Linked DNA regions of Homo sapiens. The protein of the gene in region 2 interacts with the protein of the main gene of each other region in a biochemical or structural test. Each region holds a gene or a part of one and is shown on either strand. Other genes may lie near its edges.

Evidence for each region.
Region 1: of the proteins of ETV4 (region 2) and UBA2, one has a biochemical effect on the other in vitro, tested with the Homo sapiens proteins (one study listed by BioGRID).

The regions. Positions count from the first base shown.
Region 1 is NC_000019.10:34,466,244-34,471,776, reverse strand, and holds the end of UBA2 (SUMO-activating enzyme subunit 2), read right to left. Parts: intron 4,900-5,533; coding exon 4,763-4,899; intron 2,738-4,762; coding exon 2,556-2,737; 3' UTR 526-2,555; downstream 1-525. UniProt on the Homo sapiens protein: The heterodimer acts as an E1 ligase for SUMO1, SUMO2, SUMO3, and probably SUMO4. It mediates ATP-dependent activation of SUMO proteins followed by formation of a thioester bond between a SUMO protein and a conserved active site cysteine residue on UBA2/SAE2.
Region 2 is NC_000017.11:43,529,243-43,536,404, reverse strand, and holds part of ETV4 (ETS translocation variant 4), read left to right. Parts: intron 1-2,419; coding exon 2,420-2,546; intron 2,547-3,056; coding exon 3,057-3,218; intron 3,219-3,465; coding exon 3,466-3,731; intron 3,732-5,969; exon of another isoform or gene 5,970-6,223; coding exon 6,224-6,298; intron 6,299-6,452; coding exon 6,453-6,521; intron 6,522-6,728; coding exon 6,729-6,901; intron 6,902-7,162.

The DNA.
Region 1 (5,533 bases), on a different chromosome or scaffold from region 2:
TTTCTGGAGGAAAATTAAACACCTTCTAAAAACCTAAAGGCAGATGAAGCTCACAGGTGAAAGTCACTCCACTCTGGGGCTCCAGAAGGCTGAGTCTTAGTCAACATGACTTTTTTTTTCTTTTCAGAGACAGGGTCTCATTCTGTCACCCAGTCTGAAGTACAGTGGTACAATCTTGGCTCACTGCACACCCCGCCTCCCAGGCTCAAGCGATCCTCCTCCATCAGCCTCCCGAATAGCTGGGGCTACAGGCAAGTGCCACCAGGCTCAGCTACTTTTTGTATTTTTTGTAGAGATGGGGTTTTGCCATGTTGCTCAGGCTGGTCTCAAACTCCTGGGCTCAAACGATCCTCCTGCCTCAGCCTCTCAAAGTGCAAGGCTTATGGGTGTGAGCCACCACACCCAGTCTTCTACATGGTTTTTCTGAAAGCTCTGATTACATGCTGAATTTACAAATGGTGGAAAACAAGGAGTAATGGTTAATAAGCTGAATGGTACAGTACAAATTACACAAGGAACAATACATGAATTAGAAATTTAAAATTTAGTTGAAATATAAAATAAATTATTGCCAGAAACACAAAGGGCACATGAATACAATAGGGGAAACAGCTTAATGGCTTTCTGTTCTCTGAAAACTCAAGGCCCATCTCTGAGTGATAAGAGTACCCTAACAGGCAAAGCCCTCTGAGGTCCGGGACCAGGAAGACAGTGCTACTCCACCTACTGGCGGTCTGGCACTATCTGTAGGCTGGAGTTGGGCTGGGGATGGTACATTCAAAATGGACTTTGGTAAACTAGGGGACAACCCAGACAAACACTGCAGAAAGGAGGAAGGACTCCCTTTCCAGCATCTCAAATTCAAGGCTCCAAGTTACTGGGCTTGGGCAAAGTCACACATTTTCTCAACAAAGGCCAACTGCTGACAATCCAAATTTTAAAAACACTGCCATTAGGCCAGGCGCAGTGGCTCACGCCTGTAATCCCAGCACTTTGGGAGGCTGAGGCAGGTGGATCACGAGGTCAGGAGTTCCAGACCAGCCTGGCCAACATAGTGAAACCCCATCTCTACTAAAAATACAAAAAATTAGCTGAGCGTGGTGGAGGGCGCCTGTAATCCCAGCTACAGGGGAGGCTGAGACAGGAGAATCGCTTGCACCTGGAAGGCGGAGGCTGCAGTGAGCCAGGATCGCGCCACTGCACTCCAGGCCAGATGACAGTGTGAGGCTTCATCTCAAAAACGAACAAAAAACCCACTGCCATTAAAAGCTTTATTTTATTTACTTATTTTTTAGAGACAGGGTCTTGCTATGTTACCCAGGCTGGCCTTGAACTTCTGGGCTCCAGCCATCCTCCTGCCTCAGCCTCCTGAGTAGCTGGAACACAGATGTGCACCACCACCACACGCAGGAAGAGCTTTATTTTAGAAAGTACTCTTCCTACATGTGAAGTCTCCAAGAATAAAGAAAAGAAAGTACTCGTCTTTGGCAAACAGTGGAGATCTTCTGAACCTTTTTTGAGATGGAGTTTCACTCATCGCCCTGGCTGGAGTAGCAATAGCACAATCTTGGCTCACTGCAACCTCTGCCTCCCGGGTTCAAGCAATTCTGCTGCCTTAGCCTCCTGAGTAGCTGGAATTACAGGTGCCTGCCACCAGGCCCGGCTAATTTTTTTTTTTTTTTTTAGTAGAGATGGGGTTTCACCATGTTGACCAGGTTGGTCTTGAACTACTGACCTCAGGTGATCCACCTGCCTCAGCCTTCCAAAGTGCTGGGATTACAGGCATGAGCCACCGTGCCCGACCGAGTTCTTTTTTTAATGAAAAGAATTTGACATTCCTGCAGTAGATATAAGGCAGCAGAAACAGGAACTGTGCAGGCATGTGTAACAAGAATGCAGATGCCATTTATTTGGTCCATAAGTATAGTCGTTATTTGAGTTTTACAAAACATCGAATATAAATAACCTGAAACTGTAACAATACACAAAAATTGGCTTCTTACACAGACATACCAGGCGGTACAAACTGAAAACTTGAGTAAATTAACATTGTTTTACATTAATATACATAGTGCCATCTAACATTTAAAAACAAGTTTCAATGCATAGCACTCGATACTTCTTTGAATCTGTTTCAATCAGTTAAGAGTATGAAAATGGTTAGATCTAGGCTAAAAATAATTCTTCTTCTAGCCAAAAATAAAGGCATAATATTTATAACCAGGTATCAACTTTACTAAACCACAATATTTTGAAACTATTAATGATACCTACGGGTATTTACATTAAAAAGGCAACATGCATTGTGTTGTTTTATCTCATGACTGGTTATGCACACACTTTGTTCAAAGGGTTTTTAAAACTATATTCCTACTTTCAATACAGCATACTGCAATGTGTCTAACAGTTCTAGCAAAATGAATGCTTTCAAAGGGAGCAGAATCATTTTCAAGTCACTGCTGTCAATTTTTTCCCTTTGGAACAAAGGACATAACAATCTGGTTCTGCCCAGATAAACTAAATAGTAAGAGGGTTCTGTTTAGAGGCATTTCTGTTCAATCTAATGCTATGACATCATCAAGCTCTTCCTTCTGTTCTATACGTGACCTCTTTGCACTGAGATTCTCTTTCTCATCTAATTTCCTCTTGCGGCTTCTCTCTTCTTCACTGACGTCGGCATTATTTGAAGAATCTTCTTCATCTGAATCAACTATGAGAACGTCATCTTGCTCTTGAGCTTATTTCAGAAAAAAGGGAAAAAGAAAATGGGTAAAAGCGTGGGAGTTACCTGTGCTCACCTGTATTTTCTATAATTGAAAGCTGACTCTTCTAATACACACCAGACTTAAGAATGGCTGCATTTTCACTTTACACATTACGTATTTCCATACTGTTTTAAATGTTTTATATAAGAACCTATTTATTTTCTAATCAAAACAAAAAATTGTGACAAGCATTATGTAACTCAAAGTACTCATTACACATCCTTGATTCTACCTCCACATTCTCCAATAGAAAAGCAGAGGGTACATATTCTAATAATGGTAGTAGTGGTAACAATAGCAACAACAATACAGCACTTACAATGTGCCAGGAACTGTTCTGAGCACTGTGCATATGACAACTCATTTAATCATCACAACCCTATAAAGAAGATCACATGAGTATCTGCTTTCCAGGAAAGGAAACTCAGTGAATGACTTCCCAAGCTTACATAGTAGCAGAGGATGAAGCCAGGAACCATCCCCAATGCAGAACTGATACTAAAGGTGGTTTTATCTCCTCGTCCAACAAAATCAAAGGCAGAATACCTATCTTACTCATGGCTGTAACCTTGGAAACCTACCCACAGTAGAGAATCAATAAATGTACATTTCAAATTATGATTTTGGAAAATCTACCAGATAGTCTCTTCCTCAAAGGAAGATGACGGACCTTTCTAATTTCAGTGAGGGGGGAAAAAACAGGTTATGAACCAATGACCCAGGCCATAATCTGAATGTTCGTCTCCAAAATTCTCAAGAGAACATTAGAGCCAAGAGTAAACATATTCCAAAGAATGCCACAGACATAGGGTCAAAGAAATGAAAACAAAGAAGTCAAAATCTGGTAACCTTTAGTTTCCTAACTAAAGGAAGAAAGGGAGAGGAGTAAATATTCAAATCAGAATACAGTAAACAATCAGTTATTTGGAAAAATACCAAGCACCAGCACTGAAAATCCAGGGGAAAGGACTATACCCAAGTCATACTGGTGACAAGGAAACTCTAACATGCCTAAATTCCATACTTAACAAGCACCTGTTCACTCAAAATAGTCAGATGCATGGATTTATTGCTCCTTAAAACAAGCATACAAAACCCCAACCTGCTACTACATAGGCTGACTTTGCACACTAGTAAACTATCATTTCAAACTGTTAAAAACCAATTAACAAAAAATAACAAAGTGTTCTTATTTTCTGTAAGAAATTTCCATAAGAATTTCCCCCAGTCTTAAATGACTTGTTTGTTTGGAGCCGGAAGCCTCGCTCTGTCACCCAGGCTGGATGGAGTGCAGTGGCGCGATCCCAGCTCACTGCAACCTCCGCCTCCTGCCTCAGCCTCCCGAGTAGCTGGGACTACAGACGCATGCTGCCACGCCCAGCTAATTTTTTGTATTTTTAGTACAGATGGGATTTCCCTGTGTTGCCCAGGTTAGTGTCAAACTCCTGAGCTCAGGCGATCTGCCCGCCTCGGCCTCCCAAAGCGTTGGGGTTACAGGTGTGAGCCACCATGCCAGGCCTTAAATGACTTTTTTTTTTTTTTTTTTGAGACATGGTCTTGCTGTTGCCCAGGCTGCAGTGCAGTGGTGCAATCATGGCTCACTGCAGTGTCGAACTCCTGGGTTCAAGTGAACCACTTCAGCCTCCTGAGTAGCGGAGACTACAGGTACACGCTACCATGCGTGGTTAATTTTTTTTTTTCTTTGTAGAGATGGGGGTCTCTCATTGTGTTGCCCAGGCTGTTCTCCAACTCCTGGCCTCAAGTAATACTCCCATCTTGGCCTCTCAAAGTGCTGGGATTACAGGTGTAAGCCACCACACCCAGCCTTAAATGTCTTCATGGTTCATAAATTCAAAGCTCCATTACAACAATCAATACCAAACCAATACACACCTCTAGTAGTTTTATGGATTTATGGTCAATGTTCCTAATAATCAGTTTGTTTTTACTTCTGCTTTGTGGGTATTTAACAACCTGCTGGCTGGGGCCATACTCACCTGTGGAGGTGGAGGGCTGAGCTCCATCATCACTGCCATTGGTTATGCTTTTGGCAGCATCTTCAGCTTGTTTGGGCCCCACTTTTTCCGGGGCATCACCAACAACTTCAAATTCAACGTCCTTTCCTAGGTCTTCACTGTAGGAGAATCACACAGGTCACTGCTATGACTATTTAGAAAGCAAAGGAGCACCAGAGAAATCCTGTTGTTCCTCAAAGCATACACTATGTATACACCAAATATGTGGATTCTAATTTTTTTTTTAATTTTTATTTAAAAAAAAATGAGAGATAGGGTCTCATAATGTTGCCCAGGCTGGTCTTGAAATCTTGGGCTCAAGCCATCCTCCCACCTTGGTCTCCTAAAGTGCTGGGATTACAGGCGTGAGCCAACCATACCCACCTTGGATTCTAATTTTCAAAGCACTGAACTTATAATAAAAAAGACGGTACACAACAAATTTCTGTGATAATCAAAAACTCTACATGCACTTTCAAATCAGGGCAAGGTTTTGGTTTTTTGTTTCTTTAAAACAGTAAATAACTTTTATTGCTGAAGCATAAAACTGGGTCCAAAGCTTGGTGGCCTAAAGCAACTCTTGGACATTATTTCTTTAGCTACAATGCCAAAAAAAGATTTCTACATCCTCTACTTACAATGTGATCTTTTTCTTTTTTTCGAGACGGAGTCTCACTCTGTCACCCAGGCTAGAGTGCAGTAGCGTGATCTCGGTTCACTGCAACCTCTACCTCCCAGGTTTTCAAGCTATTC
Region 2 (7,162 bases):
GAGGGTATAGGGAGTGGAGGATGGCAGGAAGTGAGTCATAGGATAGAGAATCACAAGAGAGCAGCTTGTTCTCTCCTAAAACACAGTGGGGTTTGATCTTAAAGACCAAGGCAATAACTGGAATGAAAACCTTGGTTGAAATCTGGGGCTTGACATGTTCTTGCTGTGTGACCTTAGAGCAGACACTATCCCTCTGGTTCTCCATTGCCTTATATCTGAAGTGAGGGGCCTGGGCCAGTTCAGCAGAGTCCAGTTCTAGTGTTGTTTGTTTGTTTGTTTGTTTGTTTTCCCCCCAAGACAGAGTCTTGCTCTGTCACCCAGGCTGGAGTGCAGTGGCACAATCTCGGCTCACTGCAACTTCCGCCTCCCGGGTTTAAGCCATTCTCCTGCCTCAGCTTCCAGAGTAGCTGGGATTACAGGCATGCACAACCACACCCAGCTAATTTTTGTATTTTTAGTAGAGATGGGGTTTCACCATGTTGGCCAGGATGGTCTCGAATTCCTGACCTTGTGATCCGCCCACCTCGGCCTCCCATAGTGTTGGGACTACAGGCGTGAGCCCAGTGCGCCCGCCCCCAGTTCTAGTATTCTAAGTCACTTCCATAAACTGGGGACAATTTTGCCTCCCAAGAGACATTTGGTAATATCTGTAGACATTTTTGGTTGTCACAGTTGAGGGTGGGGTGCTACTGGTGTCTAGTGGATAGAGAGGCCAGGGATACTGCTAAAAGCATCCTATGATGCTCAGGACCGCTCCTTACAATATTATTAATAAAACACTATCTGGCCCACAGGTCAGTAGTGCCACTGTTGAGAAACCCTGCTTTAGGCTGGGTGTGGTGGCTCACGCCTGTAATCCCAGCACTTTGGGAGGCTGAGGCGCGTGGATCACATGAGGTCAGGAGTTTGAGACCAACCTGGCCAACATGATGAAATTCCGTCTTTACTAAAATACAAAAATTAGCCGGGCATGGTGGCGTGTACCTGTAATCCCAGCTACTCAGGAGGCTGAGGCATGAGAATCGCTTGAACCTGGGAGGCGGAGGTTGCAGTGAGGCAAGATTGAGCCACTGCACTCCAGCCTGGGTGACAGAGCGAGGCTCCATCTCAAAAAAAACAAAAACCAAAAAACAAACCCTGCTTTAATGTCAGATACTTTGCTGTCAACTGTCTTCACCAGTGAAACAATGGGGCACAAAGAATCAAAAACAGCAGAGAATAGTTGGTTACAAACGGCATTTGACTGGACTGCGGTTAAAACTGAATCTCACACCGGCTTGGAACCAACTCTTTGCTGCTCAGCCTCGTGGCCAGAGTTTGGGAACCCCGCAGGGGCCACAGGAAAGGCCAGTGTTCTTCACAGATAAGTAGGAGCATGTGTATAATGTTAGTCAGCTGACATTCAAGTGGGCCAATATCCAACCTCAACCAGAAAAAGAAAGATTCTTTTATTTATTTATTTAGAGACAGAGTTTCACTCTTGTTGCCCAGGCTGGAGTGCAATGGTGTGATCTCGGCTCACTGCAACCGCTGCCTCCCAGGTTCAAGCAATTCTCCTGCCTCAGCCTCCCGAGTAGCTGGGATTAAAGGGATGTGCCACCACGCCCGGCTAATTTTTTTGTATTTTAGTAGAGATGGGGTTTCTCTATGTTGGTCAGGCTGGTCTTGAACTTCTGACTTCAGGTGATCCGCCCGCCTCGGCCTCCCAAAGTGCTGGGATTACAGGCGTGAGCCACCGCGCCCGGCCAAGAAAGATTCTTTATATCCTCAAATAAGAAAACATGTCACTCCCCTGGAATTTTCCAGGGCACTCAGGAAAACTACAGGCCCTAGGTTGGAGGTGCTCACTCCTTGAAAGTGTTTTCTGGGGCCTGGGGTTGCATTAAATGTTTTTGTTTTTTGTTTCTTTTTGAGACGGAGTCTCGCTCTGTCACCCAGGCTGGAGTGCAGTGGCATGATCTCGGCTCACTGCAATCCCCGCCTCCTGGGTTCAAGCAATTCCCTTGCCCCAGCCTCCTGAGTAGCTGGGACTACAGGCATCCGCCACCATCCCCGGCTAATTTTTTTTTGTATTTTTAGTAGAGACAGGGTTTCACCATGTTGGCCAGGCTGGTCTTGGACTCCTGCCTCCCAAAGTGCTGGGATTACAGGTGTGAGCTACCGTGCCCAGCCTAAATGTTGAACTTTAGATGGTTTATTTAGTCAATAATCAGACACTAGTCTGATGTATAAACTAGACATAATGTAAATAGCCAAAATGTTCTTGTCTCACTGCGGGTCTCAGAAAATTGATACCCAGAGAGGGAAGGAGGCTGTACCAGTCACCCAGCTGGTCCTCAAAGCTCAGAAGGTATCAGAAGCCCTGCCTGCCTCTTGTGTGACAGGCTCTGGCCTTGCTCTGTCCCCTCCACCCCCACAGTAGCTTTCCACAGCCCCACCACCAGGATCAAGAAGGAGCCCCAGAGTCCCCGCACAGACCCGGCCCTGTCCTGCAGCAGGAAGCCGCCACTCCCCTACCACCATGGCGAGCAGTGCCTTTACTCCAGGTGAGCCCCAGCCTGGACCTGGTGAAGGGTAGGAGAAGGGTTCCAGAGGAGGGAGGCAGGGGGCACCCATGAGCAGAGGCAGCAGCTGAGATGCAAGTTAGACAACAGAAAGGATTTTCTAGCACTTGTAAGGAAGCAATACAGCTAAGGATTTCCTCTGAATAGACGGAAAACGCAGCAGAGGGCCTCAGGAATATATACTGAGGCCAGAGCAGATTCTGTTTCCACCAAGAGGCCCACTGTCCCACCTAAACCATTGCTCTGAGCAACAAATCCCCCCTGTATGAATCCCAGGGGTTCAAGACTAGCCTGGGCAACAGAGGGAGACTGTCTCTGAAAAAGAAAAGAATTGGCTAGGGCTGAGTCTGTGGCTCCTGCCGTTCCCTTCTCAGCCCCCTCTATCCTTCCTTCTCCTGTAATCCCTGTGACCTCGCTTTCCTAGGAATGAAGGGTTCAAAGATGCTTTCCAGCTTCTCTGCCCCCTCACCCCTGTCTCCTTCTCAACTCCAGTGCCTATGACCCCCCCAGACAAATCGCCATCAAGTCCCCTGCCCCTGGTGCCCTTGGACAGTCGCCCCTACAGCCCTTTCCCCGGGCAGAGCAACGGAATTTCCTGAGATCCTCTGGCACCTCCCAGCCCCACCCTGGCCATGGGTACCTCGGGGAACATAGGTAAGGAGACAGGGAAACCCACTGCTCATGGGCCCAGGTGTTTTTTCAATTCCTGAGTGTTCTCCATAAAGACTTGAGCTGTGGGGTGGTAGAGGCAGGGGGCAGTGGAATAGAAAGGGAGAAATACTGACACCCCAACCCCCTACCCCCCATTCCGGAGCCCACTCTAAAAGCCTAGGAGTAACAGGCTCGAGGAAGGATTAATTTAAAGTTCTCTTCTCTTCCTTCTCCATCCAACCACATCCAGCTCCGTCTTCCAGCAGCCCCTGGACATTTGCCACTCCTTCACATCTCAGGGAGGGGGCCGGGAACCCCTCCCAGCCCCCTACCAACACCAGCTGTCGGAGCCCTGCCCACCCTATCCCCAGCAGAGCTTTAAGCAAGAATACCATGATCCCCTGTATGAACAGGCGGGCCAGCCAGCCGTGGACCAGGGTGGGGTCAATGGGCACAGGTACCCAGGGGCGGGGGTGGTGATCAAACAGGAACAGACGGACTTCGCCTACGACTCAGGTAAGAGACTGGGGTGGGGCAGGGTGGCATGTGATCAAGTGTTCAGTTAAGCCCAGAATGTCTCCCGAGTTTTTTTACATTGCTGTTTACCATTTCATACATCCAACCCACCCACCCACTTTTTTTCTTCATAATTTCAAAAGAATGTTATTTTTCTTTCTTTTTCTTTTTTTTTTTGAAATGGGGTCCTGCTCTGGCCCAGGCTAGAGTGCAGTGGCACGATCTCTGCTCACTGCAACCTCTGCCTACCGGGTTCAAGCGATTCTTGTGCCTCAGCCTCCCGAGTACCTGGGATTACAGGCACCAGCCACCGTGCCCGGCTAATTTTTGTATTTTTAGTAGAGATGGGGTTTCGCCATGCTGGCCAGGATGGTCTCGAACTCCTGACTTCATATGATCCATCGCCTCGGCCTCCCAAAGTGCTGTGATTATAGACATGAGCCACCTCACCCGGACAAATTATTACTTTTCAATGAGCAAACCTATATTCAGATTAAAAGATAAGGGGGGCCCCCGGGGCATGGTGAGTCATCTGTAATCCCAGCACTTTAGGAGGCCATGGCAGGAGGATCGTTTGAGCCCAGGAATTAGTTCAAGGCCAGCTTAGGCAACAAAGTGAGACCTCGTGTCTATTTATAAAAAAGTAAAATTAAAATAAAGGGGGATGTAGATCCTGCCCTCAGGTAGCTTGTGACTTAATAGGGAAGTTAAGGCATTTATTTCTATTTAACAGGTGTTTGAGGTTTTAATTACCTATTAAGACCAAACTACTGTGACAGGAACACGAGTGTGCAGAGTTGGGAAATACAAAGATGAATAGGATGTGTCTGGTCCCTATCCCCACAGAGGCTTAAAAATACAAAGGGATTTGAATGAAGAGAAACATGAATTTGAAACTAGCCAGGCTCATGGTTCTTGCTAGTTCTCAATAGGAGGGCAGGGTTTTCTTGTTTTGTTTTGTTTTGTTTGTTTTGAGACAGAGTCTTGCTCTGTTTGTTTGTTTTGAGATGGAGTCTTGCTCTCTCGCCCAGGCTGGAGTGCCACTGGGTTCAAGCGATTCTCATGCTTCAGCCTCCCGAATAGCTGGGGTTACAGGTGCCCATCACCATGCCCAGCTAGTTTTTGTATTTTTAGTAGAGACGGGGTTTCACCATGTTGATCAAGCTGGTAGAAGCACAGGTTAATATGTGGCTTACATATTTGAGCCTCCCAATTGATGTATGCCCTGGCCAGAGGCAAGGGCAGAGGAAGTAGGGACTTCTTTAAATTCTAGTTCCACCTGGCTGTTGACTGGAGTGAGATGCACTCACCTGTGTTCATAAATAGCTATAGTTCAAAGCCTCAAGGGCCGAAGGAGGGCCAGTCCCAGGAAGGGTCCAGAAAACCCTGCCTTTTCTTCTTTCCTCCTGGCTTTTGTTACATTAGTAGCCCTAGATCTGAGTTTATTAGAGTAGGCCCAGAGCTAGCTAGAACTTTAGAATTTCCCTTTTTGTGGTGCCCACAACCGTTCAAGGGCAGGGGGATGAACCACAACCCCCCAGGCTGTCCAACTAAGAACCGGATGGTGCTCCTGTCCTCAAATCCAGGGCATAAGCCTGAGCCAGGCTTGGCAGTGAGCTGGGGAGAGGAGGAGGGAGGCACTCTTGCCGCTGACCTTCAAAGGCTGTAGACCGGAGGGGATTGTGTTACATGCCCTTGAACTCCTGCCCCTCCCCCCAGCTACTCCTGAATGGAGTCAGGAATTCCATTCACAAAATGGAGGCATGAATGAGCCCACCCTCCCGCCTCCTCCCGGAGGTGTCATGTTTCACCATCTTCTCATTCATAGGTGGGAGTGCAGTGGGGGGAGGGCGGGAAGGGGTTGGAACTTGAACGGGTGGCTTCACACAGCCGCCTTCCCGATGTGGAGTGGGAAGGTTCCTATCCTATGGAATGGAATGAAACGAAGTGGAATGTGCTCTGTTAGACCTGAAAAAACAAGGCCCAGTGCCCACTGCCTCTTCCCCAGGTGCATGCAGGCGCACGCTCTGTTTCTGTCACACACACACACACACACACACACACGCGCGCGTGCACAGGGCTGGGAACCTGACCTGCTGACCGGACATTTTTGTCCATTCTGAGGGAGTCTTAGGCGTGGACACCGAACTCTTTCCCCGGACGTTCATCTCACCCTCCCTCCTCCCCCTGAACTCGCAGGAAACAGCTGCTCCCTGGCAGCTTGGGCCCTTCAGAACAGCTTGCCCAGCCCCCGCTGCTGCCTTCCATGGCCTCAGCCGCAGCCCTCAAGTTGAGGAGGGGTTCCAGCATCACACTCCCTCTGGGTGAACTTTCCCTGGGATTTTGTGGTTGGCAGGCAACCTGGGCAAAGAACAGTCACCAGGAAGCAGGCTGGAAGGAAGAAATTCTTGAATGTGGATAGGACTTCCTCCTCCCCTGCCCTCGAGCTCCACCCCAAGCCACTTCTCACATCACCCCTTCTTCCCCCACAGATGTCACCGGGTGCGCATCAATGTACCTCCACACAGAGGGCTTCTCTGGGCCCTCTCCAGGTGACGGGGCCATGGGTAAGGCAGCCCCCCTTCCCCTGCCAAGCCCTCCATGTTGGGGGAGGGAGCGCTGCCATGGGGGAGGGTCTCCCTGGCCAGGAGTCCCTCTGGACTCTCTGGGGTCTCATCGGTGAACCCCCAGATCTGAGCAACCCCCAATTTCCTCCACAAGGCTATGGCTATGAGAAACCTCTGCGACCATTCCCAGATGATGTCTGCGTTGTCCCTGAGAAATTTGAAGGTCAGAGAAGTGACTGTTGATGGGAGGGTCAAGGTCTTATCACGCTGTGTCCCTGCAGGAGTCACATCACGTTTCATTGTTGCAAGAGGGTGGGACCCATAGAAAAGTACCTGGGGAGACCCCTTCGAGAAATCCCTCGGGTGGGAGGCGGTTGCTTGGGGGACCAAAAGACACAAACCCCACACCTCCTATTTTCGTGTTCCCCAGGAGACATCAAGCAGGAAGGGGTCGGTGCATTTCGAGAGGGGCCGCCCTACCAGCGCCGGGGTGCCCTGCAGCTGTGGCAATTTCTGGTGGCCTTGCTGGATGACCCAACAAATGCCCATTTCATTGCCTGGACGGGCCGGGGAATGGAGTTCAAGCTCATTGAGCCTGAGGAGGTGGGCCTCTCGGATGTTCCCAGCCCTCCTTTCCAAAGTTTACAGCCTGGAGGTGGGAGAACCTGGGAAATGGTGGCACGTGCCTCCATCATGATTCTTGCTTTACCTAACCTGAATTCTTGCCAAGCCTAAGTCTGTGGGCTGATGCTTTGTTGCAGAGCTAGCTTGGCACTTTGCACCAAGAATCTCAAGTGCTCTTTCTGACCTTACCCCCATTTTTTCCTCTGCCAAGGTAGCATCTCTACCCCAAAACTGTTTTGT